7 linked regions of the Homo sapiens genome follow. The protein of the gene in region 1 purifies or fractionates together with the protein of each later gene. This does not show direct contact. Each region holds a gene or a part of one and is shown in the gene's direction. Other genes may lie near its edges.

Region 1 (4,246 bases):
CACTGCAAGCTCCGCCTCCCGGGTTCAAGCCATTCTCCTGCCTCAGCCTCCGAGTAGCTGGGACTACAGGCGCCCACCACCAAACCCGGCTAATTTTTTGTACTTTCAGTAGAGGTGGGGTTTCACCGTGTTAGCCAGGATGGTCTCGATCTCCTGACCTTGTGATCCACCCACCTCAGCCTCCCAAAGTGCTGGGATTACAGGCGTGAGCCACTGCGCCCGGCCGAGATGGAGTTTTTCCTTGTTAGGCCGGTCTCGAACTCCCGACCTCAGGCAATCCGCCTGCCTCGGCCTCCCAAAGTGCTGGGATTACAGGCGTGAGCCACCATTCCCGGCCAGTTACAGAGATTTTATGGTGAAGAGGGAAATTGAATTCTACATTGGCTGGCCATCTGGTGAGTGTGATGGTGATAATAGTCTTCACAAAAGATGAACGAAAGGATGGCTGAGCAAGGGTGACCACTCAGCCAAAGTTTGACAATAGTGATTTGTAGTTGACCCATTTGATACAAGTTTCTAATTCCTTAACTCTCTTCAACAGCTTGGGAACAGAGAAAGGAAATGGAAGTTGCCCAGGGTCAGAAGGGTTACAAGGATAGGGGATTCTAGGGTAACAGGGAGTATTTCCATGTAATGGCCCACCATGGAGAATCCATAACAGTGATGAAGGTCTAAGACAGTAGTTTTCCATATGTTCCTTGGAGCCCTAAAATTTCACTGCAATGCCTGGGGGTTGGGGGGGCGGGTGTTGACAGCCCTCCTGATTTAACCAAGGTAAATTTTACTTGTTTATTAATTATGGGAGTTCCGTGGCATCTCTCATTAGAAGAAAAGGTTCTTTTACTAAAACAGTTTTAAAAACACTGGCCCAAATGAACAAGTGTTGAGTTAGAAGTTTAAAAGATGATGAGCAGGCTGGGCGCGGTGGCTCACGCCTGGAACGCACTTTGAGAGGCTAAGGCAGGCAGATCATCTGACGTCAGGAGTTCAAGACCAGCCTGGCCAACATGGCAAAACCCCATCTCTACTAAAAATACAAAAATTAGCTGGGTGTGGTGGTGCACACCTATAATCCCAGCTACTTGGGAGGCTGAGGCAGGAGAATCACTTGAACCCAGGAGGTGGAGGTTGCAGTGAGCTGAAATTGTGCGGCTGCACTCCAGCCTGGGTGACAGAACAAGACTCTATCTCAAAAACAAACAAACAAACAAAGATGATGAGCAAAGTCATAGAAGCTAGGAAGTAGAAGAAAAGGAAGGAGCAGAGTGCAGTAGTTAGGCCTTAAGCATGCAGAGAATGGGAAAAGAAACAAAAGAACCTTATTCAGAGGACTACTAGACTAACCCTGAATTTACCCTGAATTATATCACCCTAAGGTCCTCGTATGTTATTTTTTTCCCGTGACTTAGGTACATCCAGGAAAGAGGGTTGGGGATAGGAGTGAGATTGGAGTTAAACATTCTCAAGTAATATCTCTGATAGCATTCATGAACTAGGAATTGTAGTTCTTTGTAGTGTTTTACTCAAAAAGCTTCTTAGGATGATGATGTGTCAGTTATTCGTAACATTATAGTAAATGTCCACTTGTTAGGTAAAAGGAACAGAAGAGCCTAAACATTTTTATAATAGCCTTTTCAGAACAGTGGTTCTTGACTTTTTTTTTTTTTTTTTTTTTTTTTTTTGAGATGGAGTCTCACTCTGTTGCCAGGCTGGAATGCAGTGGCACGATCTCGGCTCACTGCAACCTCTCACTCCCTGGTTCAAGCGATTTTCCTGCCTCAGCCTCCTGAGTAGCTGGAATTACAGGCGCCTGCCACCACATCCAGCTAATTTTTGTATTTTTAGTAGAGATGGGGTTTCACCATGTTGGCCAGGGTGGTCTTGATCTCCTGACCTCATGATGCACCCACCTCAGCCTCCCAAAGTCCTGGGATTACAGGGCTGAGCCACTGTGCCCGGCCGGTTCTTGACTTTTCATGGGTCATGGACCCCTTGCCCCTTTGACAATTTGATAAAATCTATAAAAATTTCTCAGCCAAAAAAAAAAAGAAGAAAGAAAAAGAAAGCATACAGGTAGAGTTCTGTATAAAATTTGTGGGAGTTCAAGGACCACCCCCACCACACTGAACTCTCTGTGGACTTCAGCTTAAGACCCCCTGATTTGGGTGAAGACCTACTGAGGAACATCTGATTCTGGAGAGTCTAAAGTGGGATTTCAAGCAGAGATATTTCAAGATACGTCTCTTGGAAATCTTGATGTTTTTCCTTGACTTCTCTCTTTCCTTCAGGCTCTTACATCCAATAAATCAACAAATCCTATCTATTTTATATTTTAAATATACCCACATCCCACTATCTCCATCACTACCTTCCTATTTCAGGTCACCATCTCTCACTTGGATTGTGGCAGTATCCTCTTAGTTGCTTTCCCTGCTTATATCCTTGCCTCATAGCCCCCACAGCCCATACTCCACACAACAGCCAGAGTGGCCCATATTTTTAAAAGTGTTTTTATGTCACTCTATTCATGTCATGTATTCAAAAGCCTCCAGTGGCTTTCCCATTCAAAATACCATGATATTTGATATTTGGTTATTGTGACCTACCAGGTTCTACACATTATGGCCCTGGCTATGTCTGACCTCATTTTCTATCACTCTTTTTTATCTCAGCCATACTGGCCACCTTGTTATTTCTCAGCCATGTCAGGCCAGGCACGCTCCCACCTCACAGCCCTCGTATTTGCTTTTATTCCTTAGCATACTCTTCTAGATATTGGCTTAGTTATTTTCCTGAAGTCTTTGTTCACTGTCATCTCTTCAGAGAGTTCTCTTCTGACTACCTTGTATATAATAGCACCGCTACTTTTCCACCATCACTGTATGCATTTGACCTTACTTTTTGCTCTTTCATAGCACTTATCACGACCTAACTCATCTATTTCTTTTTGTCTACTCCCACTGGAATGAATGCTTCATGAGACCAAGGACTTTTATATGCTGCTGTGTCTCCAGCACTGAGAATGGTGCCTGTCACACAATAGGTACTCAGTAGACATTTGTCAGATGACATACTAGAATGCATCCTGAAAAAGAAAGGCAGCCAGGGTGGTTATGAGTCTTCAGATGATAAAAGGATGAGCCAGAAGAGCTGCGAAAGTTTTGCCCAGAAGAAAAAAAGAGTTGATCATTTTTTAGGCTGTTTCACAAGGCATTCCTGCATCAGTGGCAGGTAAATGACCCCTAAGATTCTATGATTTTTTTGAAGGTGTAGTTCCCAAAATGGAAGCATCACAGGAAGCACTGTGTTGCGATACTAAGCACCCACCCTAGTAAAGGCCAGTATAATCAAATGACTAAGGTACTCATCTTCCCTAAAGGACTTGCTGAGATCCGGTTACTTCTGTATTTTTCTGGCTTCAGAAGGTACTCCTCAGCCCCTGCTGGGCCCTAACTTGTCATCTGAGGGAACTGCCTGGTGGCTAATTCTGGGGTATAGAATCTATATCCCTGCCAAGGTGGAAATTGGTATGCTTACTACCCTATCATTTGCAAAGGTAAAATCTTATTGAGGCCTTCTTTTGAAGGAATACCTCTTCATTTGTAAGTTCATGGGTAATGCTTTTCTGTGGAACAGATACAAGCAGAAGAAGGAGTTGGAGCATAGGTTGTCTGCAATGAAATCTGCTGTGGAAAGTGGTCAAGCAGATGATGAGCGTGTTCGTGAATATTATCTTCTTCACCTTCAGAGGTGGATTGATATCAGCTTAGAAGAGATTGAGAGCATTGACCAGGAAATAAAGATCCTGAGAGAAAGAGACTCTTCAAGAGAGGTAAGCCTGGCCAGAGAAATCTACTGCCAGAGATTTGAGTATTCTACAGGAGATCAAATTAAGATCCTTTTAAGTCTCCATAAAATCACTGTTTTTATCAAGATGAGTATAGAAAGGCCGAAGGGTCACTAAGGTAGCTTTCTCTTTAATTTAATGTGTTCCCCAGTGCTTTTTAATCTGTAACACACTTGTAGTCATTTGTAATTTTGTGGTATACCATGGGGGACAGAAATGTCTCTGAAATAAAAATTGGTTTTGGTTGTGGAAAGCTGTGGCTGCTGAGGGAAGGCATAGGGAGTTAAACCTTTAAAATCTGTGCTAACTGGCCACCACGGTGGCTCATGCCTGTAATCCCAGCACTTTGGAATGCCGAGGCGGGTAGATCACTTGAGGCCCGGAGTTTGAGACCAGCCT
Region 2 (4,246 bases), on another chromosome or scaffold:
CCATTGCACTCCAGCCTGGGCAACAGAGTGAGACTCCATCTCAAAAAAAAAAAAAAAAGAAGAAGGCTTTCTGTTGGGGGCAATATAACACTTTTGAAAGTTATTTGAGAGACAAAGTAGATAGTCTCTAAAGGGAATTGGTCTCAGTCTTATTAAGGTCGAAAGACAACATTTTTTAAACCAGAGAAATTTTTTAATTTCTGAAAATATGGCTAATGCAAGTGTGGAACTTCTCCTTTCTGCAGACTGAGGGTAATAAAGGTGCTATGGTCTGAATGTTTGTGTCCCCTCAAAATTCATGTGTTGAAATCCTAATCCCTGAGGCAGGTATTAGGAGGTGGGGCCTTTCAGAAAGTGATTAGGTAGGTCATGAGGACAAAGTCTTCATGATTAGGATTAGCATCCTATAAAAGAGACTGTAAAGAATGATCAAGCCCTTCTGCCATGTGAGGTCACAGTGCAAAGGTACCATCTATGAGGACAGACACTAAATCTCCAAGTGCCTTGATCTTGGACTTCCTAGCCTCCAAACCTGTGAGAAATAAATGTCTGTTGTTTATAAGCCACCCAGTTTATGGAATTTTTGTTACAGCAGCCTAAATGGACTAAGATAAGAGGCAATGGAGATTTTAACTTTAAGATGTAACCTCTTACAAAGCTCTCTAGTAATACTTCTAGAGAAATAAGTATCTTCATCACTAGAAGCAAATTTGAGATTTTGTAGGGAGAAAACACAAAGTCAAACAACGTTTTTATCATTGTTGTAGCTTTTTGACCAGTTTTGATTCATCCTGAAAATAGACATATTGTAACCAAATACACTCATATCCCATTGTGGGAGGCAGTTGTATAAAATTCATTTAGAGACTCTGCTTCTGACAAGATGAAGTAGACATACTTTTCCTTATTCCTCCTGCTAAGTACAACTAAAAACTCTGGACATGATATATAAGACAAACATTGGAAGACTCTGAAAGGTGGTGAGAAGAAGGTAGACTGGCTAGGGACCTTGAGACCCTAGGAACAACAAGGCAATGAGTTTCCTAAGTTTTCTTTTTGCCTCATATTGCCCAGACTTGAAGCTGAAGAAGCTAGTAACCTGGAAATGCTGATGGACACAGACCAAAAAAAAGCCTAATGAAAGCCTGCTCTCTAGCCACAGGACCTGGAAATGGGCAGCATTTCCTGGCAAGAAAGAAAACTTTTAGACAATAACTGCTCTACTCCAACTAAACTCCATAGAGAAAACTGTGGCCTCAGTCCCACCCATGCCAGCAAAAGCTGAGTGGGGAGCCTAGATTTTCACCCAACCAGATGTAATGAGCTGCCCAGCCTTCCCCTGCCAAGGTGATGTGGGGGAAGGCTGGGTAGGGAGCCAGGACTTTCATCCTGCCAGGCTTTCCCCTCTTGCCATATCAATGGAGACACATGAGGAACCTAAAATTCCACCCCAACCCAGCAGTGGAAATATTTAAGATAATTATAAGCGGGAGAAGGTACAGGAATGTAAAGAGAGGTGAGGTTTCTGTACCTTGTTCAAACTAATAAAATGATGTCACCAAATGACTGATAAGTTATGTGTGTGTGTGTATACATATACATGGGTATATGTATATACATATATACATGTATGTCTGTATATATGTGTATGCGTATATGTATATATATGCCATATGTATATACATATATAGTAACACCTAGAGCCACCATTTAAAAAGCTATACAAAGAGATACATGCAAAAACACTACAGATAAATGAAAATTGAATTTTAAAAAGTTCCAGTGACCCAGAGAAAGGCAAAAAGAAGACAGAAAACATTAAAAAAGGAAGAACAAACAGAAAACAAACATGAATAAAATGGCCAACTTAAGCCCTAACATTTCAGTACTTACATTAGATACAAATACATTAAGAGACAATGATTGATAGAATGGATTAAAAAACATGCCCCAGCTGTATGCTGTCTACATGAAACTCACTTCCAATATGATAGAGACAAGGTAAAAGTAAAAGGGTAGAAAAGATAATTCATGCAGATATTCATCAAAAGAAAGCAGGAGTGGCTATCTTGATATCAGATAAAGTAGACTTTGGGGCAAAGAAAATTACCAGACATAAGAAGTACATTATACAGTGATAAAAGAGTTGTGATTGACCAAGATGACACAGTAATCATAAATATATGTTACTAAACAGCAGAGCTAGGGAACACATGAAGCAAAACTGATATAACTGAAAGGAGAAATAGAAAAATCTAAAATTATAGTTGGAGACCTCAACACTGCTCTTTTTTTTTTTGAGATAGGGTGTCACTCCTGTCACCCAGGCTGGAGTGCAGTGGTGCCGTCTCAGCTCACTACAATCTCTGCTTCCCGGGTTCAAGGGCTCCTCCTACCTCAGCCTCCCAAGGAGCTGGGGCTACATGTGTACACTACCACACCCAGCTAATTTTTCTATTTTTTGTAGAAATGGGGTCTCACTATCTTGCCTAGGCTGGTCTTGAACTCTGGGGCTCAAGCAATCCAGCCACCTCGGCCTCCCAAAGTGCTGGGATTACAAGCATGAGCCACCAAGCCCAGCCAACGCTCCTCTTTCAACAATTGATAGAACTAGACAGAAAATTAACAAGGAAACAGAAGAACTCAGCAATACCATCAACAAATAAGATCTAATTAGTATTTATAGAATGTTCTACCGAACAACAACAGAATTCCCCTTTTTTTTTCCAAGTGTCTGTAGAAAATATACCAAAGTAGACCATGCCCTGGGTCCTAAAGCCAACTTCAGCAAATTTAAAAGAATGGAATGATGTATTCTTCAGCAACAGTGGAATTAAACTAGAAATCAGTAGCAGAAACATAATAAGAACATCTTCAAGCACTGGGAAAATAAACAGCACACTTCTAAATAAATAATCCATGGATTACAAAGGAAGTCTTGGGAACTTTTTAAAAATATTTTGAGCTGAGGCCGGGTGCAGTGGCTCACGCCTGTAATCCCAGCACTTTGGGAGGCTGAGGCAGGCGGATCACGAGGTCAGGAGATCGAGACCATCCTGGCTAACATGGTGAAACCCCGTCTCTACTAAAAACACAAAAAATTAGCCAGGCGTGGTGGCGGGCACCTGTAGTCCCAGCTACTCGGGAGGCTGAAGCAGGAGAATGGCGTGAACCCGGGAGGCGGAGCTTGCAGTGAGCCGAGATCGCTCCACTGCACTCCAGCCTGGGTGACAGAGCTAGACTCTGTCTCAAAACAAAACAAAACAAAACAAATATATATATATATATATATAGAGAGAGAGAGAGAGAGAGAGAGAGAGCTGAATGAAAATGAAAAAGGGATCATAGCTAAACAGTGCAAAGGGGGAAATGTATAGCACTGACTGCATACATTATAAAAGAGGAAAAGTCTCAAATTAATAACGTAAGCTTCCTCCTAAGAAACTAGAAAATGAAAAGCAAAGTAAACCCAAAGGAAGCAGAAGGAAGGAATTAGAGAAGCAGAAATTAATGAAATTAAGAACAGAAAATCAGTAAAACAGAGCTGGTTCTTTGAAAAGACCAGTAGAATAGACAAACCTGTAGCAAGACTGACAATGAAAACAAAGAAGCACAAACTACCAATATCAGGAATGAAATAGGGGATACACTACAGACCTTTCTGACATAAGAAAGATAAGGGAATACTAAAAACAACTTTGTATACATAAATTTGACAACTTGAATTGGACCAATTCCTCATCCAATATGAACTAATATGATGAGTCCTATAACTTAAGGCAATTGAATTTATGATTAACAAACTTCCAAAGAAGATTTGTCCAGACCCAGGTGATTTCACTGGAGAATTCTGCCAAATGTAAAAGAAGAATTAACATCAATTATACACAACCCCTTCCAGAAAACTGAAGACGGGAGAACACTTCCCAATTCATTTGATAAAGCTAATATTACCCTGATACCAAAAACAAATGAAGACAGTACAAGAAAACTACAGACCAATATCTCCAATGAATATAAATGTAAAAACCCTTGACAAAATGTTAGTAAACAGAATTCAACAGTATATATAGAAAGAATTATACACCTTAACCAAGTGAGGTTTATATCTAGGATGCAAGCCTGGTTCAGTATACAAAAATCAGTCAGTATAATCCACCATATTAAGAGGGTAAAGAAGAATCACATGATCATATCAGTTGGTACAGAAAAGGCATTTGACAAAATTCAACACTCATTCATTATT
Region 3 (3,533 bases), on another chromosome or scaffold:
AATGCTTATCTGAGAAGTTACTCAGAAACCCCTTTGTTTTAATCCTTGGTGTATTATTTTTTATTTTTTGTACTTTGTTCAGCTTTGAAGAATTTTTAGTAACTTAGAGTGGTCCTTTTCATTATTTTTCATATCCTTTTACAGGAGTCTAGGCTTAGAAGTTAGTTTTTTAATGAATCTCTGATATTAGCATATTTTTCTAACCATTTCGATCTTAATTGTAACTAATTATTTTAAAATTCTGGTTAGTAGATTTTTCATAGAATGGTATTCTGCTTCACTTAAGTGTAAGTGAATGATATTTTCCTTTTGAATTATACTGACTTGGAAAATTGATCTCGTTTAAGAAAAAGAGATAAGGCCAGAAATTAGATCATGAACATACTTTGGAGGCCTTGATCCTCAGACTAAGGGGATTGTCCTTCTGATAAGTATTGGGGAGCCATTTGATCAGTTCAGGGGAAGAAAGTATACGTTTCTACACAAAGGAATAACATGATCAAAGATCATGAAAGATCTGTGAAAGAATAGGGGCCGGGTGCAGGGGCCCACGCCTGTAATCCCAGCACTTCGCAAGGCAGAGGCAGGCGGATCACCTGAGGTCAGGGGTTCGAGACCAGCCTGACCAACAAAACGAAACCCCATCTCTACTAAAAATACAAAAATTAGCCAGGTGTGGTTTCAGGTGCCTGTAATCCCAGCTACTTGGGAGGCTGAGGCAGGAGAATCTCTTGAACCTGGGAGGCAGAGGTTGCAATGAGCCAAGATCACGCCACTGCGCTCCAGCCTGAGCCAACAGAGTGAGACTCCAACTCAAAAAAAAAAAAAAAGAATAGGGAGTTTATCGTTAGTATCTTATGGCAGACTGCAAATATTCATATTTAAACTTAGGTTAAAGTTCATAGCAATAATGATAATATGACGGTTTTTTATTTTGTTAACTCTATTATTAATATCCTCCCTACCCTTCTTTTTCCCTGACAGTCGGATATGTTGCGGTCACTATCTAACACAAAACCTACAGTCAATGAACATGACTTGTTGAAATTAAAGAAGTTTACAGAAGATTTTGGTCAAGAAGGCTAAGCCAAAGACAAGGAAGATGCTTACCATATGTATTCTTTCTTTCATAGATATTTTTGTCTATTTGGATCGCATTAATTGTTTCCAGTAAAACTCTTTTACCACAGGGAAATACACATCTCACTTCAGAGTTCCATTAGGTTTTATATTGTACTTTTCCTCCATTACTTATTAAATACTCCTATTAACAAAAGGTACAAAATAACAGGTTATGAGGAAATGAGCGATATATGAACGGCATAAAAACAGAAATTACCCAGTAAAAAGGATGTCAGAAATTGACATACAAATATTTACAATTTTTATGAATGGTGGTCTTTGCAAAGAGCATTTATATTTTCTTTTTTTTTTACTAAAATGATATAGGGTTTATTTTATATTTTCAAAAAAATTGTTAAACATCATTCTTATCAATGTAAAATTTACGTTATTAAAAAATTACAAATGATAGAATCTTTACTCAGGGATGGGCAATAAAACAGCAAAGAGCTTTGTGATTGGGTTTGAAAGATTTTGAATTATAGACAGTGCTCTTAATAGTTTTTAATAAGTTGATATTTTTTTCTGTGTAGATTTAAATAATTTCTTTAAAAGCGTAAGCTTTGGCTGGGCATGGTGGCTTATGCCTGTAATCCCAGCACTTTGGGAGGCTACGATGGGTGGATCACCTGAGGTCAGGAGTTCAAGACCAGTCTGGCCAACATGGTGAAATGCCGTCTCTACTAAAAATACAAAAATTAGCTGGGCATGATGGCGAGTGTCTGTAATCCCAGCTACTCAGGAGGCTGAGGCGGGAGAATCACTTGAACCTGGGAGGCAGAGGTTGCAGTGAGCTGAGATCGCGCTACTGCATTCCAGCCTGGGCGCCGAGATAGCGCCATTGCACTCCAGCCTGGGCGACTGAATAAAACTCTGTCTCAAAAAAAAACAAAAACGGTAAGCTTTTATATTTAATTAACTGATACCTTTCACTGTGCAATCTCAAGAGGAAGATTTTCTAAATTAGACATTGTCTTTACCTTAAAGAAGAAAATTGTCTATTTCAGTGTCTTTTTTAGCAAGATTGACCAAAACAGGTGGTAGGTGTGTAATTTTTAACTGTCATGAAATACTGTAATGCGCACCTTTGCTAATAAGGAAATGGTCTCCCTTTGAATTATGGGAAGTTTCTTGTCTGTGATATGGGGTGTCTGTGTACATATATGTATATTTCCTTTTTTAATACAGGATAATAATATGGGGTCTTGTCCTTCACCTTTTAAGTTCAGGGAACAGTTTGTCCTGACCACACATATGTTATCAGTGTAATGCTTTATGAAGCTTTAGAAATGAGCTCATGACTCATTAAAAAATAATAAACGATGCTATTTTAATATTTTCAAATAAATAATCTGAGGATGTGTTTCATACTTTAGCATCAACGCTGAGTTGTGCCTTGTAGAATTGCATTGTCTATACATGCAAAAGACTATTAAGTTAGGATGAACTAGATTCCCTAATTACAGTGAAATTCTATCTTGCAAATGCTATAGAATAACTTGCATTTTAAAGTGTATTTGCACATTTTACATATGCTATGTGGTTGCCTTTGGGTTTTCTGTACAGATTGTTTTTGTTATTAAATGGAAAAGGCCTGAATTATGCTCTTATGTGAAGTAAATTGATATAACCTATTGACTGTATTCTGTGTATTATTCTTTATTTTGGGACCTTCTGTGTAAAAGAAAATATTACCTAAATTGGTTAGATACAAAGAAATCATTAAAATTATTAATGTATATATGAAAATTCTGTTTTTCAATGACTTTTATGTGAGGATTGAGAACTAACTTAGTAAACTAACACTGAATTCTTTGTGGATAAGATAATTTATACATCTTACCTGTTTATCAGCCTCAGAATTATACAGTACTGCTGTGTGTTCTTTATGGACAGATACTCAAAGGAATCCGAATGGGCATGTTCTATTTCTCTGGCTCTTGACCAGTAATTATAAAGTTTAGGTAGACATTTTCTGAGCCAGCAAGTAGATCATAGTTGTTAAGCATCTCTATGACTTACACCCTGGATATTTGAAAGCATTTTGTCTCACCCTGAGAAATCTATAAGGACTCTATAATTATAAAACATGTCAATAGAGAATTGACTTCTGAGTCCACTGTCAACTACATGCAGAAAAACAGAATGAGTGTACTTGATTAGTGCCACAGAAGCACCATTTAGCCACTTTCAGAGTTGATAAAGAGGCATACCTACCTGATGGTGCTGTATGTTGCAAGTGAAGCAACACAGTGCCCATTGTTGACACTAATGTTATTTTAAGTTTGTGAGTTTTCACAGGTGCCCTTTTCTTTCCTACTTTCATCCCTTCATTTGTATCCTCCTCTTATTTTAATATGGTATCTTTCTTTTTTTTGCTAGTCCACATCACGTATTTCCATTAAAACCTA
Region 4 (4,246 bases), on another chromosome or scaffold:
AATTACCATAAAGCATCCCCATGAAATGCATGTTTGCTACATTCTTGGCCTGTCATTTAAATAGATCTGTTTTTACTGACCTGTGATTTATCTACAACAAAGAGCATCCCTTGTATGTGTATGGTTTGATAGTTTGATGAGTTTTGACAAATATATATACCTATATAAGTATCACCCCAACCAAGATAGCATTTAATCACTCCCAAAAGTTCCTTCCACCTTATGCAAGTACTAATATGCATTGTCACTATAGATTAAATTTCCTTTTCTAGAATTTCATAAAATGAAATAGTATTGTCAGTACTCCTGTGTCTAGCACTAAATGTGTTTCTAAGATGAATTCAAATTTTTGTATGTATCAATATTCCTGTTTCTTGGGGAAGAGGTATTACATTGTGTTAATATATTACAATTTATCCATTCATCTGTTGATGGGCATTTGGATTGTATCCAGGTTTTGACTCTGAACAGAGCCTCTGTGAACATTCTTATAAAGAGTACTGGGTAGTATGCTTTCATTTTCATGTCCTTAAGGGAAATTATGGTTCTGTGATTTCATTTGTTGTAAGCCTTAGATATTTGTTATTTGATTTCCAAATATTTGGGTATTTTTATGCTATCATTTTGTTATCAATTTGTAGTTTAATTTTGTTATGGTCAAAGAATGTACTTTGTATGACTTTAGTCCTTTTAAATTTATCAGTGTTTGTTTTATAGGACAGAATGTAGTCCATTTTGTTGAATTTTCCATGCACATGAAAAAAAATGTGTATAATGCCATGGGTGGGTGGATTGTTGTGTAATGCCAGTCAGGTCAAGTTTCATGATAGTGTCATTCAGGTATTCCATATCAGTACTTTTTTTTCTTGTGTTATCAAGTCATTGAGGGGGCATGTTGAAGTTTCCAGTAGATTTGTCTGTGTTTCCTTTCGGCTGTATCGATGTTTCCTTTATATATTTTGAAGTTCTATTTTTGTGTTCATGCACATTTAGAATTATGTTTCCTTGGGGGACTTAACCGTTTTATTATTATGTACTGTCTCTCTTTATCCCTGTTAGTATTCCTTGTTATGAAAACTGCTAACGGTAGTGAATAGATAAAAGTGTAGTTGGATTACAATCTTAATCTGCCATTTTTCTAGATGATTGGTTATGTTTCTTCTGTTTTCTCTTTCTGTCTTTTGTGTATCAATCAAATGGTTTTTATGGTTTTATTTTTTTGATTTAAAACTTTGTTTTGAGACAGGGTCTCACTCTGTCTCTCAGGATGGAGTACGGTGGTGCCATCACAGCTCACTGCATCCTCGACCTCTGGGGCTCAAGTGAACCTCCCACCTCAGGCCATTCACTGCGCCCATAGGAGCTGGGACCATTTCTGGCTAATTTTTGTATTATTTTTTGTAGAGATAGGGTTTCACAGTGTTGCCCAGGCTGGTCCCAAACTTCCGGACTCAAGCCATCTGCCCACCTCGGCCTCCCAAAATGCTGGAATTATAGGTGTGAGCTGCTGCACCCAAGCTATTTTATTTTCATTTTTCTCTTAAAAATATTTGTAGTGGTGGCTCTGTGTTAAATTTTTTCATTTTTTTTCTCTCTGTACTTCAGTTTGGGTACTTTCAGCATATTTTCAAATTTACTGATCTTTCATTCTTACCTGATTAATTCCATCCACTTTTTAATTTTACATATTTTTTTGTCTCTAGACTTTTATCTGGGCCCTTTTTAATATATTTCTTCATCATTATGTGGATGATTTCCAGCATGCTTATAATAGCTTATATAAAGTCCTTGACTGCTAATTTCATCATCTTTGTTATTTCTGCATTCTCAGTTGACTGAATTTTCTGCTAGTTGTGTATGGTAGTTTTCTTCTTCATATCATGTCTTCATATCATTTTATTGAATGCTTAGTACTTTGAATTTTATATTTTTGAGCATCAGGTGTTGTATTCCTGTTAAGGAGTATTGGACTTTATTTTTTCAGAAGTGGTTACATTCGTCTGTGGCTTATGTTGTTAGGCAGTATGTAGGTATGATTGAGCTGCATTGCTAGGGTCTAAACTCCCCTGTATATCCACTGAATCCTCTGGATTTTCAATAGATGCTTCACTGTGGCCTCATCTCTGACGACTGTGTGAGCGTTGGATCTCTTTAGCATATCGCCCTCGGTCACTTTTTGACCAGTTTCATGGAGTTTTTCACCTGTGCATGCGTGGGTTTTTCAGAAGGTCTTCACTGATACTTGGAAAGTGCCTCTAGGCAGAAAGTTGAGGCAAACTTCTGGCTTATCTAATTCATTTTCCTTCTTGGATATTATCATTCAGTACTGCCTGTGGCCTCATGTCTTTAAAAAGTTAACCTCAGTGTGGAAAATCTGTTTTTCCAGTTTTCTAATTGTTTACAACGGGAGTGTAAGTCTGGTCTGTTTTTCCACCCTGGCTGGAAGTGGAAGTCATGGCCTACCATTTTATTTTCAAACCTTTTTTTTTTTCCTACCCAGAATTAGCCTGAAATGCCTCATCTACGATTACTAATAAGAGAGCCTGTTAATTTTGTTTGAAAAATTTAAAGGAACTAGTTTACAGTTTTTCAACCGTGTTATTAATAAAAATTAAATTTCCCTACTTTATCATAGTCTCCCTTTTTATCGTAGTCTTTTGTCTATAACAGTTAAGGGGCAGGGGGAAGCTAGATGTATTATTAAGTAATTTTTACTTTTCTCATTTTTTTAGACCTAAGGATTGTCTTCGGTCTATTATGAGAAGAGTGAACCACAAAGATCCTCACGTTGCTATGCAGGCTTTGACTGTGAGTGGTTTCATTTTAATCTGTACCACGAAATTACCTGCCACAATTGAGCCCCTTTAACTTCTGATTTTGTGCTTTTAGCTTCTAGGAGCATGTGTATCAAACTGTGGCAAAATTTTTCATTTAGAAGTATGTTCAAGAGATTTTGCTAGTGAAGTAAGCAACGTATTAAATAAGGTAAGGAGCATTATTTCCAGAAATTAATTAAGGCAGTCTTCTTTCTTCACATATTTTATTGTTTAAATCTTCACAGAGGACTATTCTGTGCTTTTTAAGAAATCCTTTCTAGGCTGTGTCTATCCAGTATATAAATAAATATTATGTTTTGTTGAAGAGACTGCGGATTCATGTAACTTTGAGTTAGTTTTTTCAAGCCATATTAGAGTGTTTTTAACCTGTTCTTTTCCATCATACTTTCATCTGATAAGAAAACAGGTATTTCTATATCTAATTAAATAATATCAGTCTATTTTACATACTGTTTTTGTAGGCACAAGGTATTTTCCTAATGGAAAACCTTTCAGAAACACTGCAAAAAGTCTATGGCACCGTTGAGTTTTTATCTTTATCAATAAGGCTGCTTCCTGGCCATCACAGGATTTTAATACTATACTGCTATTCTTACTGGCTGAACCCACAGCTGGAGTTGCCTCAAAAGTGGTGGCGGGGGAGTTTCCACAAGGGACTGCCCCAAACTGTTCCAGATAGGGCCAGATGAGAGTCCAAAAAAAGAGGCACTAAATGCCAGGGTGATCAGTCTAAAGGATTTATTAGGGGAACTTACACAGGAGGGCTGCAGTTTATAGGAGGGTTTAAGGAATTTGGCTCAGGGTTGGGGCTGGTTTCTGTGTGTTTAGCAACATACTTGATCTTTTAGTGTTTTGGGCCACAACCTGAACAACTTTATCAGTGCCTGAGAATGTTCAAGGCCCCAGTTTGGGTCCAAACCTATGGTGGAAAACATGCAGCTGGCTAGGTCACAGAGCGGGACAAGGCACTCTGTTTTTCTATTGGGACACAGAAAGAAAGCAGGGAGAACTGGGGACCCTACAACTGCCCACTCAACTGTAGAATTCTAGTCACACAGTTCAAGAAATTTTTCAATTTTCAATTAGTAATATGTGAGTTTCCCCAGTAAAAATTTGTGCATTCTAAAAGTAATTATTTTTGGCCTTTTTAGGGGGAGTACTGTAAATCAAGAAAAAGTTTTTGTATGTTAAAAGGGAAAATGCCTCATGTTTTTGGGAAAAATGAATAGTTCCAGGTTACAGTAGAAAAATAGCAGTATAGAAATATAGTAAGAATGTAAAATTCTGTACTTTTCGAACATCATGGTTAAATGATAATTCTTTCCCTTTCCTGCTTTATGCAGTTAATATTTATTTTCTACTAATTAATAAACATTGTCTTTTAATGTCCTGAATGTCCATCGAGATTA
Region 5 (5,018 bases), on another chromosome or scaffold:
TGTGCCATCTTCTATTCATTCCACTGTCATCAACTACATGTACTCATCAAACCATGCCAGTTCTACCTCCTTAATAACTGTAGCTTAACACCTGAATAACTGAACAAAAACTTACAATTTAACTCTCTTAACACTTATCTACCTCAATTTTATTTTTATAATTTATACATAATCTATAATTATTTTTATATAATTGGCACAGTGATAATTCCAGATAAAACTCACTGAATTTCTATTTCCATCCTTGCCAATGATACACACACACAATGTAATGCTGAGAGGGTTGGGAAGGAAGAATGGGAGAAAGGCAGAAGTTGACAGTTAAAAAAAAAAAGTTTCCAGATGGTTTTCTTAGTGTCATCTCTGCAACCTCATCAAATAAGGGTCCAAAATTTATGTTACAACATTTGTTTGATGCCTTATTTAAATTGCTTTACTGGACATTTTCCATCTGTTAAGCTCTCTGAAAGAAACAAAATTGCCTTGTCATAGCTAGACCTCATGATCCTATACACTTACAACGGGCAGACTTTGCAGGGGCCCACACCTTTCAAGGTGGTTTGGGAAAATGACACAGAAAAGTTTTACATCAGCTGAAAAGAAAAATGCATAACTCATTTTGGTAATTTCAGTTTTAATTCTTAATAGGATAAAGGAAACATGCACATTATAAATCAATGCTCTGTGTTAACAAATAATCAAGTAAGCAGAGTTGCAAGTATTGGCTAAAATGAATTTTGGATATTTTTAGCTACCAAATTTCTCGAGGCAAGGCAGACATACATCTGGACCTGAATATCTGCATTATTAGGGAATTTTTGTTTGTTTGTTTTATATTGTTTTGTTATTTTTAAAAGTAGGTGCCAAATTAGGTCACCTGCTGTCTGGGCAATGTTATTTTTTGCCATAACCACAAATTGAAGAAAATTGACTGCTCTTTTTCCTTAGTCAACATGCTGTGCTTCCAGCCCCAAACATCTTTGAGAAGTTGTTTAGATTCATGAGCAATGCCTCTGTCCCCAACAGGCTAAGACATTAGGCAGGTCCCTGCACCTCTGGAGTCCTCAGTTCCCTGCAAAGTGAGGAAGCTAGACTAAGTAATCGTTAGGCTCCCTTCCAGACCGACCAATCTGATGGTATTAGATGCAATTGCTCCTGAATTAGGGCATGAAATGAATTCAGCTTTGGTGCACCAATGTGATGACTCTGCTTCATCAAAGCCTGAGCACGCGATAGGCCTAGCACCATCTCACACAGAGACAAAGGGCAACCCTCTGCTTCCAAAGGAATGACACAACCTGTTTCTGAAGTGATTCACATCATCTTTACTTTTGAACAACCCAATGCTCAGAAAACAATCTAAGAATCTTCGCTGACTTTAGGGATGTAAGATACGGTTTCTTGACAGTATTTGGGATTGTGGAAAAAAGCAATTGAGGAAAGGGCATCTCCACAACGCAATATTGAATTTAGTGCCCAAGGTCCATCACAGGAATCCCTAACGATCCCTACAATCTCTCTCTCTCTCTTTTTTTTCTCTCTTTACCCTGAAAATAAACTGAGAAGTTAGTATTGGGATAACTATTCCCCTTGACCCAAATAAAAAGTCCTGGGCAAACACAGGTACAAATTGCCAAATGGAAAAAGTTCTTCTCCATCTTCAGCTAGAGGGAGGCTGGGGATCCCAGCTCTTTAGAAGCCGGCCCGTGGACGCCCAGAGAATCCCTTCGGAGACCAGGTCAGGGTCACTGAGCTTGCCCAGCAGGGCGCCGCCTCGGACGCCGCCCCGCCTCTCACCTTGCCAGCGCCGCGCTCGGGCCGCGAAGGTGCGTGCGGCGCTCGGTGATTGGCGGCGGCCCGGAGCTGCCCGGCTGCCATTGGCTGCCCGGCCCCCTTTGTTCCCGGGTCCGGGCCGCAGGCCCGCTGCGGCGGACTGGGCGGCGGAAGTTCGACGGCGCCGGGCGAGTGGCTGTTGAGCGGCGCCGCGGGAGTTCCGCAGGTTTCCCGTGTTCGCAGCGGAGCCGGAGGCCAGCTGAACCCGGCCGTGGGATCCCGGATAGGAGGAGGAGGGGACCCATAGGACGCGTTAACATGGACCTGGAAAACAAAGTGAAGAAGGTAGGGGGGCGCTCGTGGCGGGCGGCGGCTGCTTCACCTGCGCGGGTCGCGCGGCGCGCGGCGGCCGGAGGTGCCGAGGTGGGTGGGGCTCGCGGGCCCCCCGGTGTGAGCCCGGCTCTGGGTCTGCGGTGCCCCGGGCCCAGGGACCTGGCCCCCTGGGTAGAGGAGGTGCTCGGCGGCCCCGCCAGCTCCCCACACTCGGGAGCGACAGAATTGGAAGCGCGAGCGAGGGCGGGCGCGGGACTCTTCTCTCCAGTCTCACGGAATCCCAGTGGTTGTAGGTGTTGGAAACTTTACTTAAGATGTTTCAGCTCTGCCTGTGCCTCCTCAAAAGGAAAGGACGAGCTTAGGGCGAGTGCGGGCGAGACCGTGACACTTCCTGGCTCAGGAAGTTGAATTTCATTAAGCCTTTGTGGTTTGGGGCTCTGCTGTGCTTTGACAGCTCTGATCTCCTCCCTTCCGGCTGGGCTGTCTGGGGCGCTCTAAAATGAGTGTTGATTTAATGCACTGCCTTCGCACCCGTGCTGGTGATAACTTCTAATGTGATTTTTTTTTCGGTCATTCATTACTTGTCTACCGACCGAGGCAGTGCCTCCCTCTTAGGGAATTATCTGTCAAAGAGCGCATTCTCCTTGTTTGGCAGGTAGTCCCAAAGGGCGGTTGTCACCAGCGTCTCAGCGCAGGGAGACATTTTCAGCTTGGCTGCTGCCTCGCAGGCACTGGAACCGACGGCCCTACCTGAGCCACTCCCGGGTTATGCGGAGCCTGGTGTCGCCTGGGAGAAAAGGGTGGGGACCAGACTATGACTCAGAAGGAATGCTGATGTCACATTCGAGTGAATTGCCCTGTGCGAAAGTTCTCCTCGTTCCAGGGGATTTGCTCATGTTTTACTTTGTGGTAAATTTAAGCTAGCTGTCCCTTATCAAATAGAGAAGTTTTGCAGAGAGAGGAAGGGAAAAATACAGAAAACAGTTTTTGTTTTTCTCATACTCATGGTTCCTAATATTTTATCTTCTAAACACAAAGTTTTTGACTTGAGCATTAATTCTATTTTATGCCCAGAACTGGATTTTTGAAAATGGATACAAAATATTGTGTTAGGACTGCAGAGTTTTCGGTTAGGAAGCTATTGACCAATAAAAACTCGAAATGAGAAAACAGTTTTTTTCATTCCTTGCGACTAAAATTCTCAGGCACTCAAAAAGGTATCCAAGAACAGAAAAACATAAATTGTTAATGGTAGCGTGATTGCATTCTATTCTCTTCCCATTTGGTTTCTTTCTTTTTTTCTTTTAAATAACTGTAATATTTTTGGTTAATCTTGCTTGTCATGGGGGAAAAGCGGGGAAAGCATTTTGCCCGCTTAGCTTTCTGTTGATGAATACTACTCTCATTTAGTTTTCAAGTAGGTAAGAGCTACTTAATTTAGTACTTGTCTAAAACTTGGGGGGTCTTGTCCTTGCTTTTAAGTATTTATTTGAAGACAACTTTGCAAAAGTAAACATATTTTGGGCTGCCGAGGATGAACAGGTGAAGCACAGGATTTTTAGGGTAATGACACTATTCTGTATGATACTATAAAATGGCTGATACATGTAATTATACATTAATCAAAATCCATAGAATGTAGAACACCAAGAGTAAACCCTAATGTAAACTATGTATGTTGGGGATAATGATGTGTCAATGTGTTTCATCACTTGTAACAAATGTACTGCACTGATACGGGTTGTTGGTAGTCCGGGAGGCTGCTGGAGACAGGAAGGCATGGGGGAGGTACATGGGAACTTCGAATTTTCTGCTCAATTTTGCTGTGAAGCTAAAAAATGCTTTAAAAATAAAGTCTGTTTAATAGGGGGAGAAAAATCAAAGACATTTTTGAAACTTTTTGAGACAAGGAGTAATTCTGAGGGAAGAAGTTCAAACTTAAAAATTGTATATGCTTGCAAAGGAAAAATCCAGACGTTGTTTATAAACAATTTCCTTAGAGTTTGAAAATGTGGATTATGATAAATAATGCCCTTGACATATGGTGTAATTTTCCTCGTTTATCCCCCACTTTACTTTTAAAAGTTATATTTTCAACCAAGAATCTTAACTTTCTCTAATCCTCCTCTTCTCCGCCTCTACCACCCCAGAAAGAATTCCATAAATTAAAGGTTTTAGAGAGAATCCCATGATATAACAAATCCCTGTTTCACTACGTTGTCTTCACTGATGATTCTTAGAATCCTCAACTGGTAAATTGGAAGCTATTAAAAAACCGCAGAGATGTCCCGTATGACTCCAATTTGTGAGTCCCTTAATAGGCTTGATAGTCTAACAAAAAGTTTCCCAGTACAAAATTTGGAAATCTCAGGAATGTATTTCACAATCTTAGCCATACTCTCAAAAAGAAATTTATGTTCCTTTTAGCAATTGTTTTCTAACACGTCCAAAGAAGGAAATATTACAAGACTATCTGATTTACCAGCAGAGTCCTCACCCTATTTTGGTACCTAGTTTTCAAGTCTCCTTTCTTTTTGACTCAGTTATTCAAGAAAATTTATAGTTTGAATGTACCTTGAGAAAAGGAAGATTAAAAGTTGGAACAAAGATACAACCATTTAAATACAACTAATATGACTTCTGTTTTAAGATGTATGACATTTTTTCCTTCTAAAACTTTTACATTGTTGATTTCATGAGGAATTTCTTCCAGACAGATGAAAAGCATCATTGTTCCACATTAACATTTCATGTAAAAAGAATTAAGGAGGACTGTCTTTATTAAACAGTGATTGAGATAGATGATACTATTATAAAATTCTTGGTTTGTAAAAGGAAAGCTCGTCCACATCAGTTGTACAAATTGGGATTAATTACCAGTTAAAACCCACCATCACAAAGACAAGGGGTTT
Region 6 (4,246 bases), on another chromosome or scaffold:
CTGGGCGGGGGAAGTCATTTTTACCTTCGCATTAGGGTTTCATATAGAACATCTTGATTTAGAACAATGTAAAACTGTTAATTTGTGCTTATATAGATAAGCCTAAAAATGACCACATGCCATCTTTCAAAAATAAATTAATCCCTAAAACATAAATGCTTAGACTGCCACTATTCCTCTTGAATTGCTAGTCGGCACAGACTTAGCCCTGTCAACAATGTCAAGCCAAATAGCATTTTACTTTTGGCTGTTTTTTGATATACAAGATGATATCAAACTATTTGGAGATGAGTACTTAAAACGTCTTACTCAGTTTATCAGGTTTGTACACACTGCTTTCCCTTTTTGATAAAGTACATTGCCTATAAATGTATAAATAATTGAAAGTTTCTAAAAGATAGCTTTTTAATATCCTGTCTTACTGGAACACCAAGTGGCTGGGGAAGTTATCTGATTTTTTTTGGACAGTTATTTTATCCTGGTAGAAGAGGACTTAAAATTCCCAATCCTCCACCCCATATTCGGTGTTTATGTATTCACTAAGCATGTTTTGTACTGAAATGATTGGTGTAGTTAGATTCTTATATTCAATGGAATTTGGAAAATATTTTTTATTTTATTATGTAAATAGCAGCCAGTGTTTATGCATTTAGCTTTAAGCTTTGATTTCTTTTTATCAACATGGCATATCTTTGATACTGACATTTGCAGAGTTTCTGCTACCTATTTATGGCTAAACTAAGCTTTGTCTAGTATGTGAGATTGTAACGAGAGAATGAAAATGAAAATTTAAAGAACAGCAATTTAGACTTTTCTGATGTTTTAGGATGGGTGGATTGCTTAAGATAAGCATTTCCACCGGATGTGGTGGCTCATGCCTGTATCTCAGCACTTTGGGAAACAGTGGGTCACTTGAGCTCAGGACAAAAAATTTAAGTTACCTGAGTGTGTTGGTACATGCCTATAGTCCCAGCTTCTCCAGAGGCTGAGGCAGAAGGATTGTTGGAATGTGGGAGGTTGAGGCTGCAGTGAGCCATGATGGTTGGTGCCACTGTACTGCAGCCTGAGTGACAGAGTGAGACTCTGTCTCAAAAAAAAATTTCATAGTTGTTTTTATTTTCACTGATGCATTATAGCAAGAAAGCATTAACAGAAGTAGTATGTGAAACTGTTTATGGATCAAAATCAGTGACCCCCCAGGCTGCTTAGTTTTCTTTTCAAAAGACAATTGATTTGACACTTGCTTTTAGCTTTAGAGAGGTTTTAGAATTGTAAGTATAGGCTTTTACAATGGAGGAGGTTGTAGGAAAAATGGAGGAGGCCGTAGGAAAAATTTGAACATTTTTACTTCTTAGTCTATTAAAATTACCTGTAAACATCTGATGTAGGAAGTTAGGAAAGATGCCAAGACATACTAAATTGATGTGAAGAGGGAAACTATATATGTATATAACTAAAATAATTAATCCCCAGGTGAATTGTTTCTGGCCACTTCAAAAAATTGTTTTTATGTTGGAAAGAATACACTCTTCTGAAGGTAATGTAGTTTCTGACATCATGCTAAATATATAGTATGCGCTGAATAAACAGGAACATATGGTGTGTTTCAATCATGAATTTAAACACTTGATGCATTTCAGTCATGGATTTAAAGGTATTTGATGGGTTTGAGTTGCAATTATTATCCTTTTTGACGGTCAAGTTGTCTCCCATTTGGTCAGTGGTAGCCTTTTCCAGTTGGCTCCAGAGTCCTTTTGACGTGACCTTAGTAGTTTTTGATAGTATCCTTATTCTCTGGTATAAGAATATGTTCCAAGCTCATTTCCTGCCCCAGATGTGAATCAGATATTTCTCAAGAAGACCTGCCTTTTAGTGGGAAATGGCATTTCAAGACTACAATCTTGGTGGTAGAGAAGTTTATTATTACTCAGCTACATAAAATACTAAGACTTGCAATTCAGAATGAGGAATACAGCGTTTTAAAAAGTTTTTTTTTTGTTTAGGTAAAATATACTTATATAATTTACTGGCCAGGTGCAGTGATTCATGTCTGTAATCCCAGAACTTTGAGAGGCTGAGGCAGGTGGCCCAGGGTCACTTGAGCCCAGGAGTTCGAGACCAGCCTGGGCAACATGGTGAAACCCGTCTTTACAAAAAATATAAAAAATTAGCCTAACGTGGTGGCATGCGCCTGTAGTCCCAGCTACTCCCAGCTACTTGGGAGGAGGAGGTAGGAGGATCACCTGAGCCTGGGAGGTTGAGGCTGCAGTGAGCCGTGATTGTGCCACAGCACTCCAGTCTGGGCAACAGAGTAAGACCTTGTCTCAAACACACACATGCACACTTGCACACTTATGTAATTTACCATCTTTACCATTTTAGTTTTCTTTCTTCTTTTTTTTTATTTTTTTGAGATGGAGTCTCGCCCTATGCCACACTGGATCGTAGTGGCGCGATCTCGGCTCACTTCATCCCCCACCTCCTGAGTTCAAGCGATTCTCCTGCCTCAGCCTCCTGAGTAGCTGGGACTACAGGCACACACAACTAATTATTGTGTTTTTAGTAGAGACAGGGTTTCACCATGTTGGCCAGGATGATCTCTATCTCTTGACCTCGTGATCCACCTGCCTTGGCCTCCCAAACTGCTGGGATTACAGGCGTGAACCATCGCCCCCGGCCCCATCTTTAGCATTTTAAGTGTACAGTTTGGTGGTAATAAATACATGTATATTCTTTTTTCTCCCCTTTTATCTCTCCTGTTCCTTGCTCAGTCTCTAGTAATCATCAGTCTTTAGACTCTTACCTTTGTGAGATCCACTGTTGTAGCTCCCACATATGTGAAAACGTGATGTTTGTCTTTCTGTGCTTGACTTAACTTCACTTAACATAATGGCCTATAGTTCCATCCATGTTGTTGCAAATGACAGGATCTAATTCTTTTTTATTGCTGAATAATATACCACATTTTCTTTTCCATTGATGGGAACTCAGGTTGGTTCCTTGTTTTAAAAAAATGTATTTTTGAGGCAAGGTCTTGCTGTTGCCCAGGCTTTAGTGCAGCAACTCAGTCATAGCTCACTGCAACCTCAAACTCTTAGGCTCAAGGGATCCTCTTGCCTCAGCCTCCTGAATAGCTAGGACTTACAGATAGGGTACATGCCACGATGCCTGGCTAATTTATAATTTTTTTTGTAGAGACAAAGTCTTGCTATGTTGCCTAGGCTGATCTCCAACTCCTGGCCTTAAGCAATCCTCCCAGAGTGCAAAGATTACAAAGCATGAGCCATTGCACTGAGCTGGTTTCATATTTTGGCTGTTGTGAATAGTGCTGCAGTAAACATGGGAGTGCACAGGGATTTTTCTTTTCTTTTCTTTTCTTTTCTTTTCTTTTTTTTTTTTTTTTTTTTTTTTTGAGACGGAGTCTCGCTCTGTCACCCAGGCTGGAGTGCAGTGGCGCGATCTCGGCTCGCTACAACCTCTGCCTCCTGGGTTCAAGCGATTTTCCTGCCTCAGCCTCGTGAGTAGCTGGGATTACAGGCATGCGCCACCACGCCTGGCTAATTTTTTTGTATTTTTAGTAGAGATGGGGTTTCACTGTGTTAGCCAGGATGGTCTCGATCTCCTGACCTCGTGATCCATCCACCTTGGCCTCCCAAAGTGCTGGGATTACAGGTGTGAACCACTGCGCCTGGCCCAGGGTTTTTATAACTTTTTGCATACCAGGAATCCTGGTTCTCTCAAGAACACAGGCAGGGTATGATAGAATCAGGATGTCTTGTAATTACTGATTGTAACCAACATTACACATCAGAAAGTCTAAAATAATAATGCGAATATTACTGCCACCAATATAATTACTAGGAATGTTAAATTTTTTTTTTTTTACATATTCTCTATTTCTAGCCCCCATTTAAAAGTTTTTCTGTCTCCCTTGTCTGAGCATATTGCTATTACGTAACTTTCCCTTTTGTTTTTTTTTTTTGAGACAGAGTCTCACTCTGTTGCCCAGGCTGGAGTGCAGTGGTGCGATCACAGCTCACCGCAACCTCTGCCTCTTGGGTTCAAGTGATTCTTGTGCCTCAGCCTCCTGAGTAGCTGGGGTTACTGGCACGTGCCACCATTGCCTGGCTAATTTTTGTGTTTTTAGTAGAGACGGGGTTTCGCTGTGTTGAACAGGCTGTTCTCGAACTCCTGGCCTCAAGTGATCCTCCCCCTGCCTTTGCCTCCAAAGGTGCTGGGATTACGG
Region 7 (4,040 bases), 920 kb from region 1:
GAGTGCAGTGGCATGATCTCAGCTCACTGCAACCTATGCCTCCCAGGTTCAGGCGATTCTCCTGCCTCAGCCTCTGGAGTAGCTGGGACTACAGGCATAAGGCATGGTGCCACCACACCTGGCTAATTTTTTTTTTTTTTTTTGAGATAGAGTTTTGCTCTTGTAGCCCAGGCTGGAGTGCAGTGGCATGATCTCGGCTCACTGCAACCTCTGCCTCCCGGGTTCAAGTGATTCTTCTGCCTCAGCCTCCCAAGTAGCTGGGATTACAGGCATGTACCACCACGCCTGGCTAATTTTTGTATTTTTAGTAGAGACAGGTTTCGCCATGTTGGCCAGGCTGGTCTCGAACTCCTGACCTCAAGTGATCCGCTTGCCTCGGCCTCCCAAAGTGCTGGGATTATAGGTGTTAGCCACCATGCCCGGCCTAATTTTTGTATTTTTAGTAGAGATGGGGTTTCGCCATGTTGGCCAGGCTGGTCTCGAACTCCTGACCTCAAGTGATCCATCCACCTCAGTCTCCCAAAGTGCTGGGATTACAGGTGTGAGCCACCACGCCTGGCCTTGTTTATTCTTTTTTTTTTTTTTTTTTTGAGACAAAGTCTTGCTCTGTCACCCAGGCTGGAGGGCAGTGGCATGATCTCGGCTCACTGCAGCCTCCGCCTCCTGGGTTCAAGCGATTCTCCTGCCTCACCTTCCTGAGTAGTTGGGATTACAAGCACCTGGCTAATTTTTGTGTTTTTAGTAGAGACAGGGTTTCACCATGTTGGCCAGGCTGGTCTCGAACTCCTGACCTCAAGTGATCTGCCTGCCTCGCCTCCCAAAGTGCTGGGATTACAGGCGTGAGCCACCGCATCCAGCCCTTATTTATTCTTTTAAATAAATAATGGTTTAGTAATCTTACTTTATATGAATCTCACTCCATTTCAACCTATTGACATTCCTTGGACCTTGACGATCCTGGATGGAGTTTAATGTACAATTGGCCAGTTATTTGGCTTTTGATGGCCTATTTGAGAACTGGATCCTGAAAAGACAATTTCCAGTGTCAAGGAGTACAAAGCATGATGTAGTGGGTTCTGTGTGAAGCTCTAATGGAGTTTCGAGTTGCTCTTTTCCTGCCAAGAGGCAGTTGTGGAGAAAGGAGATAACTAGTTTATTTTATTCATCCTCTCACCTGAATTGACTGGCAGTAAATATGGTCAGTATTAATACATGTGGTTGGCCATTTCTATTTAGAACTTGTAGACAGGAGTGAAGATCAGGGTTTTCTGTCAGGGGATTCGTGTTGCCACTAGAGCCTTGGGAATCTTCTCAGTGTTTAAAATGTGGGAATGAGCTGATTTATATCAGGGAGCAAGCTATGGTAAGCCAACTTTTGTAATGGTGATTTCTTATGCATTTTCTAGATGAGGAGAGGATAAACAGACACATAGAGTCTCTATTAATCAATTGAGCATTTATTGAGTAACTTGCATATTCTGCATTTTAGAAGATGCAGAAGTAGTCATAGTTTCTGATCTTAATGAGATTAGTTAGTTAGACAAGGCAAACATGATGCATAAAACAATAGTGTATCAGGCAATGCTAAAGTATAACTGTCAGAAGAGTTCAGAGAGGAGGAAAACCAATAAATCCAGTTGTTGTTGTCAGAAAATTTTTTTGTTTGAAGTGAGAGTTGAGTGAGCACTGGTAGAATGGAGAGGATTTGGACAGGAAGAGCAGAGGTAGGCATACCTTGGATGTGTTTATCTCTTTACAGGGAATTTAAATTCACTTTTTAAAGGAAAATGTAATATGTACACATGATAAATTCAAATTGTACAATGAAAAATGTGACTATTCCACCCATTCCAGTTGTCTTCTCTTACTCTCGAAAGTCAATCACCATTACCAGTATATTTTCATAAATACTTTATTAATCAGTATAAATATATACATATACATCCCTTTTTAAAACACAAATAGAGGCAAGCTATATATATATACTGTTCTATACCTTGATTTTACTACTTAATATCTTTCCATACTGGCACATAGAGATCTTTCATTTTTATTTCGAGAGACAGAGTCTCTGTGCCAGATTACAGTAGCATAATCACAGTTCACCATAGCCTTGACCTCCTGGGCTCAGGTGATCCTCCTGAGTAGCTGGGACCACAAGCGAGCACTGCCACTACACCTGGCTTTTTTACTTTTTGTAGAGATGGAATCTTGCTATGGTTGCCCAGGCTGCTCTCAAACTCCTGGGCTCAGGTGATCCCTTGCCTCGGCATCCCAAAGTGCTGGGATTATAGGTGTGAGCCACTGCACCTGGCTTTCACATTCTTTTCATAGTTATTTAATATTCTACTATACAGGTATACCATAATTCATTGTAACCTATTGTCTATTCATAGACATTTATTATTATTATAAATAATAAAATGCAGTGAAACTCTTTTTTTTTTTTTTGAGACAGAATCTCACTCTGTCTCTCAGGATGGAGTGCAGTGGTGTGATCTTGGCTCACTGCAACCTCCGCCTCCTGGATTCAAGTGATCCTTTTGCCTCAGCCTCACAAGTTGCTGAGATTACAAGTGTGTGCCGCCACACCTGGCTAATTTTTGTATTTTTAGTAGAGACAGGGTTTCACCATGTTGGCCAGGCTGGTCTTGAACTCTTGACCTCAAGTGATCTGCCTGCCTTGGCCTCCAAAAGTGCTGGGATTACAGGCGTGAGCCACCAAGCCTGGTGAAAACTCTTATATGTACATATTTACATACTACTGCAAGTCTACTTGTAGGATAAATTCAAAGCAGCAAGGGACTTCTGATCATCAGCTATGATAAGGTTGGATGTGGTAAGGGTTGGTTTTTACCTGGTGGTGATTTGAAGGGGTTATAGGAGCATGATCCATAGGAGCTATTTCTTCATTGGGACCTGTCCAAGTTACTCAGACAGGTGGCTACCACAGGCTGAACATTACCATCTTTCTTCTTTAATTTTTCCTTCCATGTAGACAAACCTACCTATCTTCAAGCTAAAGGAGTCCTGCGTACGGCGGCGCTACAGTGACTTTGAGTGGCTGAAAAATGAGCTGGAGAGAGATAGCAAGGTATGGCTTTGTTCTCTGTGTGGCATCTTTGGAGGAGGAGCTCTGCATAGGCTGAGTGGGCATACAACCACAGTCTATAAAGTCTTGAAGGGAATGAAGAGGGTGAACACATTCTTATCCATCAAATCTCAGTATTTTAGATCGGGGGGATACCTTTTGAAACTTGAAAGTGGTAAGTTCTGGCTGGGCACAGTGGCTCACGCCTGTAATCCCAGCACTTTGGGAGGCTGAGGCGGGCGGATCACCTGATGTCAGGAGTTCAAGACCAGCCTGGCCAACATGGTGAAACCCCGCCTGTACTAAAAATACAAGAATCAGCCAGGTGTGGTGGTGGATGCCTGTAATCCCAGCTACTTGGGAGGCTGAGGCATGGGAATTGCTTGAACCTGGGAGGCAGAGGTTGCAGTTAGCTGAGATCGTGCCACTGCACTCCAGCCTGGATGACAGAGCAAGACTCTGTCTCAAAAAAAAAAAAAAAAAAAAAAGAAAGTGGTAAGTTCAGGACAAGTTTTTTTTTTAAAGTATTACTTCACTTAGTCGCTAGTAAAGTTGTACAACTTAATTCCTGTAGGTGCTAAAAATGGAAAGTCTAGTGTCAGGAAAATCCTAGCTAAATTCTTGAATGGTAGTGGCTTGTTAAGGAAAGTGAGGATTATTTGGAGTTTATTTCCTTCTTTTGAGGTGGTAAACCTGTCTTCCCACAGAAACGGATTAATTTTTGACCTGAGCCATCCTGACTGTTCTTATGGTCTTAGTTCTTGCAAGTTGCTGGCTGTGGGACAGGATGGACCCTATGCCTAATAAGAAATGAGGTACACGGTGCTTTACCATCTCATTCCCACTCTGTCTCTCTCCCATGTGGCTGGAATTTTGTGTGTGCCTGCAGATTGTAGTACCACCACTGCCTGGGAAAGCCTTGAAGCGGCAGCTCCCTTTCCGAGGAGAT

What was found.
Region 2: the proteins of IGBP1 (region 1) and GLO1 fractionate together in Homo sapiens (co-fractionation; one large-scale study listed by BioGRID). This does not show direct contact.
Region 3: the proteins of IGBP1 (region 1) and VPS4B fractionate together in Homo sapiens (co-fractionation; one large-scale study listed by BioGRID). This does not show direct contact.
Region 4: the proteins of IGBP1 (region 1) and STAM fractionate together in Homo sapiens (co-fractionation; one large-scale study listed by BioGRID). This does not show direct contact.
Region 5: the proteins of IGBP1 (region 1) and TES fractionate together in Homo sapiens (co-fractionation; one large-scale study listed by BioGRID). This does not show direct contact.
Region 6: the proteins of IGBP1 (region 1) and PPP4R2 fractionate together in Homo sapiens (co-fractionation; one large-scale study listed by BioGRID). This does not show direct contact.
Region 7: the proteins of IGBP1 (region 1) and SNX12 fractionate together in Homo sapiens (co-fractionation; one large-scale study listed by BioGRID). This does not show direct contact.

What each region holds. Positions count from the first base shown.
Region 1 is NC_000023.11:70,142,997-70,147,242, forward strand, and holds part of IGBP1 (immunoglobulin-binding protein 1), read left to right. Parts: intron 1-3,636; coding exon 3,637-3,832; intron 3,833-4,246. UniProt on the Homo sapiens protein: Associated to surface IgM-receptor; may be involved in signal transduction.
Region 2 is NC_000006.12:38,692,733-38,696,978, reverse strand, and holds part of GLO1 (lactoylglutathione lyase), read left to right. Parts: intron 1-4,246. UniProt on the Homo sapiens protein: Catalyzes the conversion of hemimercaptal, formed from methylglyoxal and glutathione, to S-lactoylglutathione. Involved in the regulation of TNF-induced transcriptional activity of NF-kappa-B. Required for normal osteoclastogenesis.
Region 3 is NC_000018.10:63,388,528-63,392,060, reverse strand, and holds the end of VPS4B (vacuolar protein sorting-associated protein 4B), read left to right. Parts: intron 1-984; coding exon 985-1,086; 3' UTR 1,087-2,871; downstream 2,872-3,533.
Region 4 is NC_000010.11:17,681,943-17,686,188, forward strand, and holds part of STAM (signal transducing adapter molecule 1), read left to right. Parts: intron 1-2,732; coding exon 2,733-2,808; intron 2,809-2,889; coding exon 2,890-2,985; intron 2,986-4,246. UniProt on the Homo sapiens protein: Involved in intracellular signal transduction mediated by cytokines and growth factors. Upon IL-2 and GM-CSL stimulation, it plays a role in signaling leading to DNA synthesis and MYC induction. May also play a role in T-cell development.
Region 5 is NC_000007.14:116,208,617-116,213,634, forward strand, and holds the start of TES (testin), read left to right. Parts: upstream 1-1,922; 5' UTR 1,923-2,091; coding exon 2,092-2,118; intron 2,119-5,018. UniProt on the Homo sapiens protein: Scaffold protein that may play a role in cell adhesion, cell spreading and in the reorganization of the actin cytoskeleton. Plays a role in the regulation of cell proliferation. May act as a tumor suppressor. Inhibits tumor cell growth.
Region 6 is NC_000003.12:72,999,248-73,003,493, forward strand, and holds part of PPP4R2 (serine/threonine-protein phosphatase 4 regulatory subunit 2), read left to right. Parts: intron 1-4,246. UniProt on the Homo sapiens protein: Regulatory subunit of serine/threonine-protein phosphatase 4 (PP4). May regulate the activity of PPP4C at centrosomal microtubule organizing centers.
Region 7 is NC_000023.11:71,061,908-71,065,947, reverse strand, and holds part of SNX12 (sorting nexin-12), read left to right. Parts: intron 1-1,236; exon of another isoform or gene 1,237-1,360; coding exon of another isoform or gene 1,361-1,363; intron 1,364-2,998; coding exon 2,999-3,094; intron 3,095-3,980; coding exon 3,981-4,040. UniProt on the Homo sapiens protein: May be involved in several stages of intracellular trafficking.